Linked DNA regions of Homo sapiens: region 2 is linked to region 1. A link means that fine-mapping ties the variant in region 1 to the expression of a gene that starts in the linked region. Tissue or cell type: whole blood. Region 1 holds a variant in brackets; the other region holds the start of a gene. All regions are shown on one strand. Distances are between the middles of the regions. Region 1 has its middle 20 kb from the start of PAG1. Region 2 holds the start of PAG1 (phosphoprotein membrane anchor with glycosphingolipid microdomains 1).

What was found.
Region 2: PAG1 starts here. The variant in region 1 is fine-mapped to the expression of PAG1 in whole blood (INTERVAL, PIP above 0.99).

Annotation. Positions count from the first base shown.
Region 1 is chr8:81,129,114-81,134,495 of GRCh38, forward strand. No RefSeq gene overlaps it. Among named protein-coding and RNA genes, the nearest start is that of PAG1, 20 kb to the left of the region's middle. RefSeq lists an enhancer at 1,304-1,383. The variant A/G (reference allele first, on the strand shown) is at 3,062.
Region 2 is chr8:81,109,535-81,114,916 of GRCh38, forward strand. PAG1 (phosphoprotein membrane anchor with glycosphingolipid microdomains 1) reads right to left here and starts at 2,534. Exons shown (of 9, transcript NM_018440.4): 1 at 2,057-2,534. RefSeq lists an enhancer at 1,980-2,049 and a silencer at 2,540-2,669.

The DNA.
Region 1 (5,382 bases):
TTTAGTAATTTGTTTCTGATTATAAATATTGCACATGTATTGATTACATAAATCCATATACTATAAAACTGATATTTAAGAGAATAAAAGTCCCAACCTCAGAATTAACTACTGCACCCCCCTTTTTTTTTTTTGATGGAGTCTCGCTCTGTCGCCCAGGCTGGAGGGCAGTGGCGTGATCTCTGCTCACTGCAAGCTCCGCCTCCCGGGTTCACGCCATTCTCCTGCCTCAGCCTCCTGAGTAGCTGGGACTACAGGCACCCACCACCATGCCTGGCTAATTTTTTGTATTTTTAGTAGAGACGGGGTTTCACCATGTTAACCAGGATGGTCTCGATCTCCTGACTTCGTGATCTGCCCACCTCAGCCTCCCAAAGTGCTGGGATTACAGGCATGAGCCACTGCGCCTGGCCAACTACTGCTTTTAAGGTAGACTTTATCTCAGTTTGCTCAGTAGATATAATTTTTTTTTTTACAGAAAAGGGATAAAACACACTCTTTTATAACTGGATTATTTTCCTTAGTGATGTACCCTGACCTTGTATGTCACCATTTATAGATTTTTTGGTTCTTTTAAACAGTGGCATAGCATTTGATTTTTAAATGGATGTACCATAATTTATTTAACTTGTCTCTTACTAGTGGGCATAAGGCCTGTTTTTAATTTTTGCTATTATAAACAATGTTCTAATCAGTAGCTAGGTATAGATATCTTTGGCCACTTTTGTGATAGGTCTCTGGTATCACTTTCTAGTATTGGAACTGCTAGATCAAACATTATACATATTTAACATTTTAACTGTTATTACAAAATTGTCCTTCAGAAGACCTCTGTAGTATGTTTGTTTCACCTTATCTGGGAATGCCAGGTGCAGGGAGAATTCAGCTTCACCTAGAACCAAAGGAAACCCTGTCAGTGAAAAGTCTCAGATGAGACCAAGGCTATCTCTTCAAATAGTTTAGAATATGCAAGATTTAACAAAGATAACATATTTGCCTAGTGTTCCTGGTACTCTGCTGGGTACTGGGGATAGTACCTCAAGCCTCCCTCACCCTAGTTGGTAAACAGCAGGCTAGTGCAGCGGTTAAAGGAGCATGGGTGAGGGTGAGGGGATTAGTTGGGGGATGTTTCTTATTTAAGCTGAATTATTTTGATGAAAAGGATTTTGGAGGGAAAATGTTTTTGTGTCAGTCATTAAGTAGCCCAGTGGATTAGTAGAATGATAAACAGATTTTTGCAGTTTAAGGAATGGGGTACAGGAAATGAAAGCAAGTGATCTCAGCCTGTTTCTCAACCAGTTAAGAATGTTTTCTACTGCAAGTGACAGAAGTGGATAATGATGGCTTAAACAAGTAGGGGATTATTTTTTTCTGAGACAAAGGTCTAAATGTGGGAGGCTGAGGATTGGTTCAGTGGCTCAATGTGTCAGGGCCAGTGTCTCTGCAGTTCTCTTGGCCCTTCTCTCATGGTGGCAAAACAGCTGCCTCTATATCTGGTGTCACATCTGCATTCGAGCCAAGAGGAAGGAAGAAACGGCGGTGGCGGGACATCTGCCTCTGCATCAGGAAGGCAAAGCTTTCCCAGAAGCCCCAACAACAGATTTCTGTTGCTGTTTACTGGTTACCACTAGCTGGAAGAGAAGGCGAAAGTGTAAAGAACAGAATGGCATAATTGGCTTAGTCTGACTATGACCATTGCGGGGATGTGGGCACACGGATTCCCAAACAAAATCCAGGCACTTCTAACTAAGAAGAAGAGGGGTATAGATATTAGGAAATTACTACAGCTATCTCTTTGTGGGTTAGATTTTGAAGGGCCTGGTAAACTATGCTGAGGAACAGGAACTTTCTAGTACACCAAAGGCAACCACCCAAGTTCTTACATGGTTTATAAGGGTTGTTAGTAGTGGCCATTCTTTCCCAGATAATTTCAAGATTCTGGACTTGGTGGAAGATTATTTCAGAGTGACAGCTACTGATCAAATGAACAACTCTCCTTACTTGCCTTATAATATGAAAGGACAAGATTGTGCTATCTCTTTCATCTGTAAAGCTTTCCTTGACTTCAAAAAGAATCTTATAAACAAAAGCTTTTCACAGGATGTGGAGATGAAAACAAGTTATAAAAGCAGTTTACATACCATGGTTTAGAACAAATCATAAGGGATGAACAAACAAACCCTTTTTAGTTAAAAAAAATTTCCATGTTTACACACACGTGTATAATTACTATCAAGATATCATGCATTTTGAAACATCTTTATTTAGGTGGTCATACAGCTCCCATGGGCCATAATGTTTATGGTTGCACATAGTTTTTTTTGTTTGTTTTTGTGGGTTTTTTTAAATTTTTTTTTTATTTTTTGAGACAAGAGTCTCACTTTGTTGCCCAGACTGGAGTGCAGTGGCGCAATCTTGGCTCACTCCAACTTCCACCTCCCAGGCTCAAGCAATTCTCATGCCTCAGCCTCCTGAGTAGCTAGGACTACAGGTGTGTGCCACCTTGCCTGGCTAATTTTTGTATTTTTAGTAGAGATGGGGTTTCACCATGTTGGCCAGGCTGGTCTTGAACACCTGACTTCAAGTACCTGCCTCAGCCTCTCAAAGTCCTAGGTATACAGGCAACAGCCACCATATCTAGCTCAGTTTTTCTTAAATATAAAGTAATTTTTGTCCACACCAAATCAGAGTAGCTGAGAACTACTGCTAAATACTCCATAGTTAGTTTATCTATAAATTAATATTTATTCATTCTGATACATTGATATGTTTATGTTTAGTACAGAGATACATTTGAACATAGAAAATCAGAATAGGAAGTTCACCATAAATATTACATAAGTGAAACACTAAAAGTGACCTGTCATAAACCTCAAGAGAATGCTTGGATATTATGAACTGGCTTTATCATTACTATTCTCTTATTAAACATTTAAAGTCTTTCAATATAATAGGGAAGGATTACTTTCATAAATAAACTATTGCTCTTTTAAAAAACTAAACACTATTGTAAAGGTATAATTTCTTGTGTGGAAATATTAGTAAGAAAATTGTGAATCAA[A/G]CTATATTCTTTATTCTTTAGTTACTCTTCAGGGTTATGCCCCATAGCATATGAGTAAATGGTTTTAATATTTTTAGTAAGAAAATTTTGATCACATTAAATGTTATTTAATGTTGTTATTGATAGCAAAGAAAAAGGGCATAAATGTTTCAAATTTGCCATTACAAAAATTACTTGACACGAGCGACTAGGTTTATCCCACATAAATTAATGTGAACACACCCAGAGGGACACAAAAGGAAAAAAATACCATAGATGAAGACTCAGCAATGAGGAAAACACCAATATTTGCCCATAACCCTGCCCCACCATATATGAAAAATCCATTGATGATTGAGTGCTTTCAAAATAATTGGCACAATCCCTTCTCTCACAAGAATATTGGAGATGATCAAACAAAACCTGCTTTTTTATTTTTAAATTAAAATTTTTCCTTTCCCTTTCCCTTCCCTTGTCCTTCCCCCTTCTGTCTTGCTGGTACTGAGCACTCTGGGCTGCCCTGCATATTACTCCAAAATAAGATCAGGGCTGTCATCCTTCCTGCTTTACCAGCTGTGTCAGTCTGGGCCCCGTGGGAAGCCGATGCCGAGCATGCAAGAGGATTACCTGGGGAATTGTCTGTAGAGAATGCAAGGAGGGAGTAGGAGTCCAGTCCACTGAGAGAGGCTCCAGACTGATCTACAGATCTGACACCTACAAGAGGAGAAAGAGTAGGAAGGATTACGTACAGAGAGTCTCAGATCACAGCAGTTTTGAAAGTCTCAGCCAAGCCAACGGGAAGTCCCTAAGACACTGAGCTTTACCACTGAAGAAGCTTCATGCTGGCCAGGAAGGATGACTTTGGAGTAAATAACATTGTGGTCACAAAGGAGTAACTACTGGAGAGACTGTTCATCAGGTCTGCTCCCCAAGCAGTTTCCCCTGAAGGAGGCCACCACACCAGCATTGTCTTCCTTTTTCAGCATTATCTTTCCTTTTTCCTTCCAGAAAAAGGATGTTGGATGTTATTTCTCTATCCAAAAGCCTTCAGTAACTCCTTTTTGGCCAGAAAATAATGCTGCAACATGCATTGAAGGTTTCTGAAAGCTTGACCTTGGCTTCATTTACACCTCTATTTTTAGAGTATTTCTCCCTAATTTCTATTTTCCAGCCACAGACAACTTCGCACCATAATCTGGAGTTTGAATGCAGTGTGAAGCCTCTGAGCTTTTGCTCACTCTGTTCCTATACCTCCATACTCTCCTGAGCCTCTCAAAATACTACCCTCCTTTCCATATCCAGGCAGGTGTCTTTCTTGAGCCATCTATTCAGAATGCATCACTTTTGTGTTCAAATACCGTGTGGTTCAGATGTCTACTTGGTGTGAATTTCACTTTACTTTATTTTATGTCTTTCCTTCAAAGATCTAGAAGACAGAAACTATATTTCTAGGACCCTGCTAGGTCTTGTGCTTAGTGGTGGTCATTTGATGAGTGTTTACTGAAAATAAATTAACCCAAATGCAGGAGAGGACGTTTGTTTGTGAGGAGGTGAGTTGCAGGAAGAAAGATGGAATCATCTAAGGAAAGTCAGAGACATTTCTGTACACATTGTCACTGAATTCTCTTTGCTTCTCAAGGAGAGGCCGAAGATTTCCTTTCCTGGAACTTGAAACAGAGTGTCCAGAAGGCTTGAGAGATAAGGGGCAGGGAAGCAAAGATGTCTTCCCTTTTATGGAACTCTTTGGGAGCCCAGCTCTAAAGGAGAGAATCAAATCCGTGTTTTCCTGTGTAATTCTTCCCTTTCTTTCTTACGTGTACCTGTGTGGTCCAGGATTCTCCCTCCTAGTTCTCGTGTGGTACCTGTGTGGTCCAGGATTCTCCCTCCTAGTTCTCGTGTGGTACCTGTGTGGTCCAGGATTCTCCCTCCTAGTTCTCGTGTGGTACCTGTGTGGTCCAGGATTCTCCCTCCTAGTTCTCGTGTGGTACCTGTGTGGTCCAGGATTCTCCCTCCTAGTTCTCGTGTGGTACCTGTGTGGTCCAGGATTCTCCCTCCTAGTTCTCGTGTGGTACCTGTGTGGTCCAGGATTCTCCCTCCTAGTTCTCGTGTGGTACCTGTGTGGTCCAGGATTCTCCCTCCTAGTTCTCGTGTGGTACCTGTGTGGTCCAGGATTCTCCCTCCTAGTTCTCGTGTGGTACCTGTGTGGTCCAGGATTCTCCCTCCTAGTTCTCGTGTGGTACCTGTGTGGTCCAGGATTCTCCCTCCTAGTTCTCGTGTGAAGATTAAACTGTGAAGTTTCTTCTCACGTCTGCTGATGTTTACCTTTGGGTCCCCATCACCCA
Region 2 (5,382 bases), 20 kb before region 1:
AATAAATGTTTATACCTTCTCTCCTATTATACACATGAACTGCTTCTGTTAATATTCATCAGCAGCAATTCAATGTCCATAGCAGCAATTCAATGTCCATAGAGTCCAAAGATGCATTTCCTTTCATAACAATGAAAATTTTTCCCAGAACAAGCTTAATATGCCAGATACTGGCCCAACAGCTCTATGTCTATGAACTCATTTAATTCTCACTACTGTTCAGTGGGGTAGGTACTACTACTGTCATCCCCATTGTACAGATGAAGACACTGAGGCACAGACTTTGGGTTACTTGCCTAGATTCAAACAGATGGTACCAGAGCTGGCAGCCTGGCTCCATAGCCTGTCCTCCTAACCAGGCTGCAATAGGGCTTAATGGGTCAATCTGTTTGAGATTCCATGCTTGGATGTAATCTCTTCTAGAGATAAGCACTGGATGCTCTCACAAACCGCAATGTGTTGATGTGACTAACTTTTCAACTTCTGAAATAACATTTTGTGTATTTTCTTAGTATTCCTAAAAAAAAACCCTTTACACTTTAAATAAGGTGCCTATAACTAGTTCATCTTGTTCTGCATGCTGAAATACCATAAATAAATGCACTTCTCTCTTCAAAGATTATGTAAATAAATCTTACATTAAAACATACCCCTGAGCTTTGGTTTAAACAATAATTTCAAGTCCAAATTAAACATTTATGTATGTGTATATATATTTAGCAGGAAAGTCTTAATATGACCTATTTTGTTAAACTAATGACATCTATACCCAATACTCCAAATATTCCTCTTATTTATAATATTCGCTGTGTAACAGTCACACAGCAGTACTGCATGGTACTTCAAAGTACTATTCCTTTTACAAGTTTAACCAACTCAGGTATTAAACATCAATGATGATAATCCATAGCTCTGCTTAAAAGGAATCTCTCGGGAACAGCTGAGAAAGAAAGGTTAAAGATTTCTATCCTTCAAAGTAGGGCACTGCAGCTACCTATAAATCATGCTCTTTGTTTATTAAGATAATTAGGCCCATCAGTACACTTAACTTTTAGACTCAACAATTGTCTGGCATGAACAATTTCCACTTTTTCTAAAACAAAGGGGATGTGTTCAAAAAGCGGTCCTCTGCATGCTCTCTGCACAATGCATGCTATTTTAAAACATGATTTATGGGTCTAATTCCTGGAGCTGCCTTGAAAAATATAGTGGGTTGTTCCTCCCATGCTCCCTATTAGGAGAAGACACTCCAATTTGAAGAGTGCACTCTGTTTCAGACTTCAGGCCGCTATATCATGTCAGCATTTTCAGTAAATACTGTTCAATTGGACTTTAAACAAATGGAATGGAGGGCCACAGCTGCAGCCACTGCAGAGATAAAGTTATCCAGCCGGGAGGCTTACATAAGAGGTGCAGGACAATCAGGGTGAAATCCAAGTGTCATTATCTGAATCCTATTTCTTGAGACTTGCCTACATTCTTAAAGTGTATGAATTCACACGCCCAGAGCTCGTTTTATTTGCCTTAGGGCATAAAACACCGGGTCGACATATAAGTTGTTTTTTCCCTAAAGGACTAGGCTCCAATTATGAAAAGGTTGGCAACTTCTGCCTAGGGGAAGAGTAAAGCGGGATGCGCGGGAAGCCTGCAGGCCTGAAAGAAATGGCTCGCCCAAAGATCCATCGCAGTGCTGGCCACACTCCCCAGAGGAATTAGGATGGAGGTGACAAGACCCTGCCCAGCCCCTTCACCCCAACGTAAACACAGAGTCAAGGAGCTTGGAATGAATAATTAGCACGCAGCAGTCGAAATGCCCTAGGAGTACCTGTCCTCTCCCAGCATATTTCCAACTGGCACATTCGTGAGATGCTGAGGTCAGCCAGCCCTGGACTCCAGACCTTCCAGCTGCCTTGTCCCCTTCTTGGCACCCCGCACTCCCTCCTCGAGCTGGAACTCTGTTAACAAGAGGTGCCACCCTCGGCTTCCCACAAGAAGATAAAAACGAACCTCTCCTTCCCACGGCTCCCTCCAACTTCAGAAACTACAGTCAACTTACTGGGACTCAGGAGGCAGGGAGTCTTCCTGGCGGACGGCGCTCGGAGGCAGCCTCTGCAAACTCCGGCGCGCAGCGCCGCCGCCCCGGCACAGCCCGGCAGCAGCGGCAAGTGCAGGACCAGGCGCCGCCGCTCTGCACCAGTCGCCTTGGCTCAGCTGTGCCGGGCGCCGGGCATTCGCCAGGGCACACGACTCAGCGAGGCGGCGGCTGGGACTGAGGCTACTGCACCCGGCCGCGCGGACCCGAGCGCTGCAGCTGCCTCCAGCCCCGGAGCGCGGCGCTCCGAGCCCCTGGTGGGTGTCTCTGGCTCCAAGGGAATCACGGCTCAATTAGGGACCTGCCAGGAGAAAAACCGATGCGCTGCCGCAGGCAGAGCCGCCAGCCCGCCCCCAGTCGGCTGGTCACATCGCGGGCGCGCAGACGGACAAGCGAGCGGGAGGGTACCGCAGCCAGCACTCGCCGCCGCGCCGCGGAGAATGACAGGCGCCGAGGCGGAGCAGCCGCGCGGGGAGCGGGGCGCGAGTGCGCATGATCCTGGCCGCAGCGGCACGTCACGGGGGAGGAGGGGCGGGCCGCGGGGCGGGAGGGGGCGAGCCGGGCGGGGCCGGGCTGGGGGTGCACACGGGTGAGGACCGGCGCGGGGCCTGGCTTGCTCGCGGGAGGATGCAGGAAGTCTTCCCTGCCCTGATTTTATGAACCCAAAGCTCTGTGGTTGAACTTGTCCCAGGAGCCCATTGTCCTTTAAACAGCACCGTTTAAGCGGTCCTTAAGGTCCCTGGGGAGCCCACAAAAGCCAATTTAATTCAGGTTACAGCTTAACCGTAAAGGGTTGCCATTTGGGGGACAGTGATCTTCTATTGTGGCTGTGCATTAAAATAACTTGGGGAGCTTGTAAGAACCCTTTGCCCCGGACGCATCCCAGAACAAGTACAGGACAATGTCTGGGTGGGGCCCACCCAGGTATCAGTAGGTATCTAAAGATACCAAGGTACAGCAGTGCTTCTCAAACCCTCAGTGTGTGACAGAATCTCCTGCGGATTGTGATGAGATGCAAGATTCAGATTCAGTAGGCCTGGGATAATGAGGGAGACATCCTTTCTAACAAGCTCTCGGAGGATGCCAATACTGGAGGTCCAGACCCCCATCCTTGCTACTTAACGTGTGATCTAGAGCCTGGAGCAGAGCTTCTGAAACAGTTGGCCTGTCTGACAGTCACCCGAGGGGCTTATAAAAAACGCAGAACAAATGCCCAGGCCGTACCCCCAGTGATAGTGGTTCTGGCTCAGCCCCTGGCAAAGGTGGGCTTCTAGAATTCCATTTGGCATCAACACTCTAAATAAATCTGATAGGGGTTTTGTTTGGGCCAAACTTCAAGTTTACACTAGCAACCTGGAATTGGGAATAAACTTTTGCACTTACAAGGAGACAAACCAAGTCTAGAACTCAGGACATCTGACTTTGAGTCAGGGATTCTAAACCAACGGGTGCTTTATCTGACTAGTCCCAATTTTCTAAAATTATGATGCATTACTTAGCAAGAAAAAACATATAAATGGCATTAAATATACACACACACACTCTATTGAACACTCGTTACACATATCATTAATGGGAGCTTAAAGGTGGCTGGGGAAGAAGGCTCATCAGGAGAGGGTAAGGAAGACAGTGATGGAGTAAGGGATGTTGTTAGTGTGTCGCAGAGGGAAGGGTATGTGGGAGGAAACAGTTTAGACTCAGCCTACAGCTTGGAAAAGCCCATTGGGGAAGCGGACCCAGGAACCAGACTTGGCCTCTTGCTTCAGAGCATGGTATGAAACTCAGGTGTTTAAGAACTTATGGAGTATAACATTTCACATACGTTACCTCACTGAAATTTCACAGTGGTCTCTTAAGTTGAATAATAATATAAAAAAGTATCCCCATTTTATATATTAAAGAAGACATCCTGGACATGAGTTGACTAATGGTGGAACTTGAATAAAAGTAGGGATCTCCGTGTTGGACTTGGCTTCTACAACTCTGGAGAAGAGGACAATTTAGACCTTATAAAGCAAATGGTTTCTGTGTTTACTAGTCACATCTTTTACAGGCTGTGCCTAAATTTGGAGTTAGGAAGGCTTTCATTCTTGTGGGGAGGAAATACATTTTGTGTCTTCCAGTTTTGCTACACTTGTTAGGATACACTTAGAACAAAATGTTCTAAGAGCAACCCGGTCCTAGGACATTGCAGTTCCACAGTGCAGGCTTCATTGAGGAGTTTGAAGGGCAATATTCACGTTATCTGGTGACAAGTGTAATTACCATCCTCATTTTACCCAGGCTCAGAAGCTAAGTGATTTAGACAAATTCACGAATGCAGGCAGGAGCCAATCTCTAGCCTCTGTCCTTTTCCTCTGCTCTCTTTTCACCAAGTAACATGCTGAGGATTGTTTTTCATTTCCAAATTTTTCATATCAGGATTTGCCATCAGTAAATTGGAACTCAAATGTATTTCAAAGCCACTCCTAGATAGAGAACCAAAAGTGTCAGGATCAATTCTTGTGCTTGTGGTAGATGCTATGGGCTATACTCTCGGTCTGAGTAATGTTTTGGAAGCAAGTATGTGATAGTTATATACAGTCTTCTAATCCAGAGGTTTGACTGGGAATGCTACACTGCCAACTGTGGTCTACCTGCCTTTATCTTTACTTCTTATCTAACTCTTCCATTACAGCCATTCTTCGGTGTGATTATGAAATTAATTCCTAAGAAAAAAGAATTCTTTGAAGGAGCTGGTACATCACAGGTTGTAAAACTTACTTCAGTTTTTAATAAGAAATATATATATATTTTAAATATGAAGGTAGCAGAATAGTCATGTTGGGACCTTTAGAAGAACCCAAAGTTGTCATTGTTTTCTTAGGTGCCCGACATTTCAATCAAAATATTTACATAATTCATTTGTATATTGATTTCAAGAGATCCAAGATTTAATTAAATAAAAAGTTACTATTAATTGGTGTGTCCTACTGCTATTGAATTTTGAACCATTGTTATTGGCATTAAATACATGAAATATATAATATTGTCTTGATACTATATTGACTGTGCTTTAATATTGACTGTGTCTTGATATTGACTGTGTCTGTATTTAGAATTTATTTCACATCAGCTGCTATTGATTGTCTGGCAGAAATCGCAGCTACATCTTTTTCTCTGAGGTCTGTATTCCTTATGGGTCAGCAAGGCCTACTCTTTGGCTGAGAATTCCTTCCTTCAATGCCTCTAAAAGTCCTAGTAGTGAGATATTCAATTATATAGACACTAATGACTCCACTGAAACTATT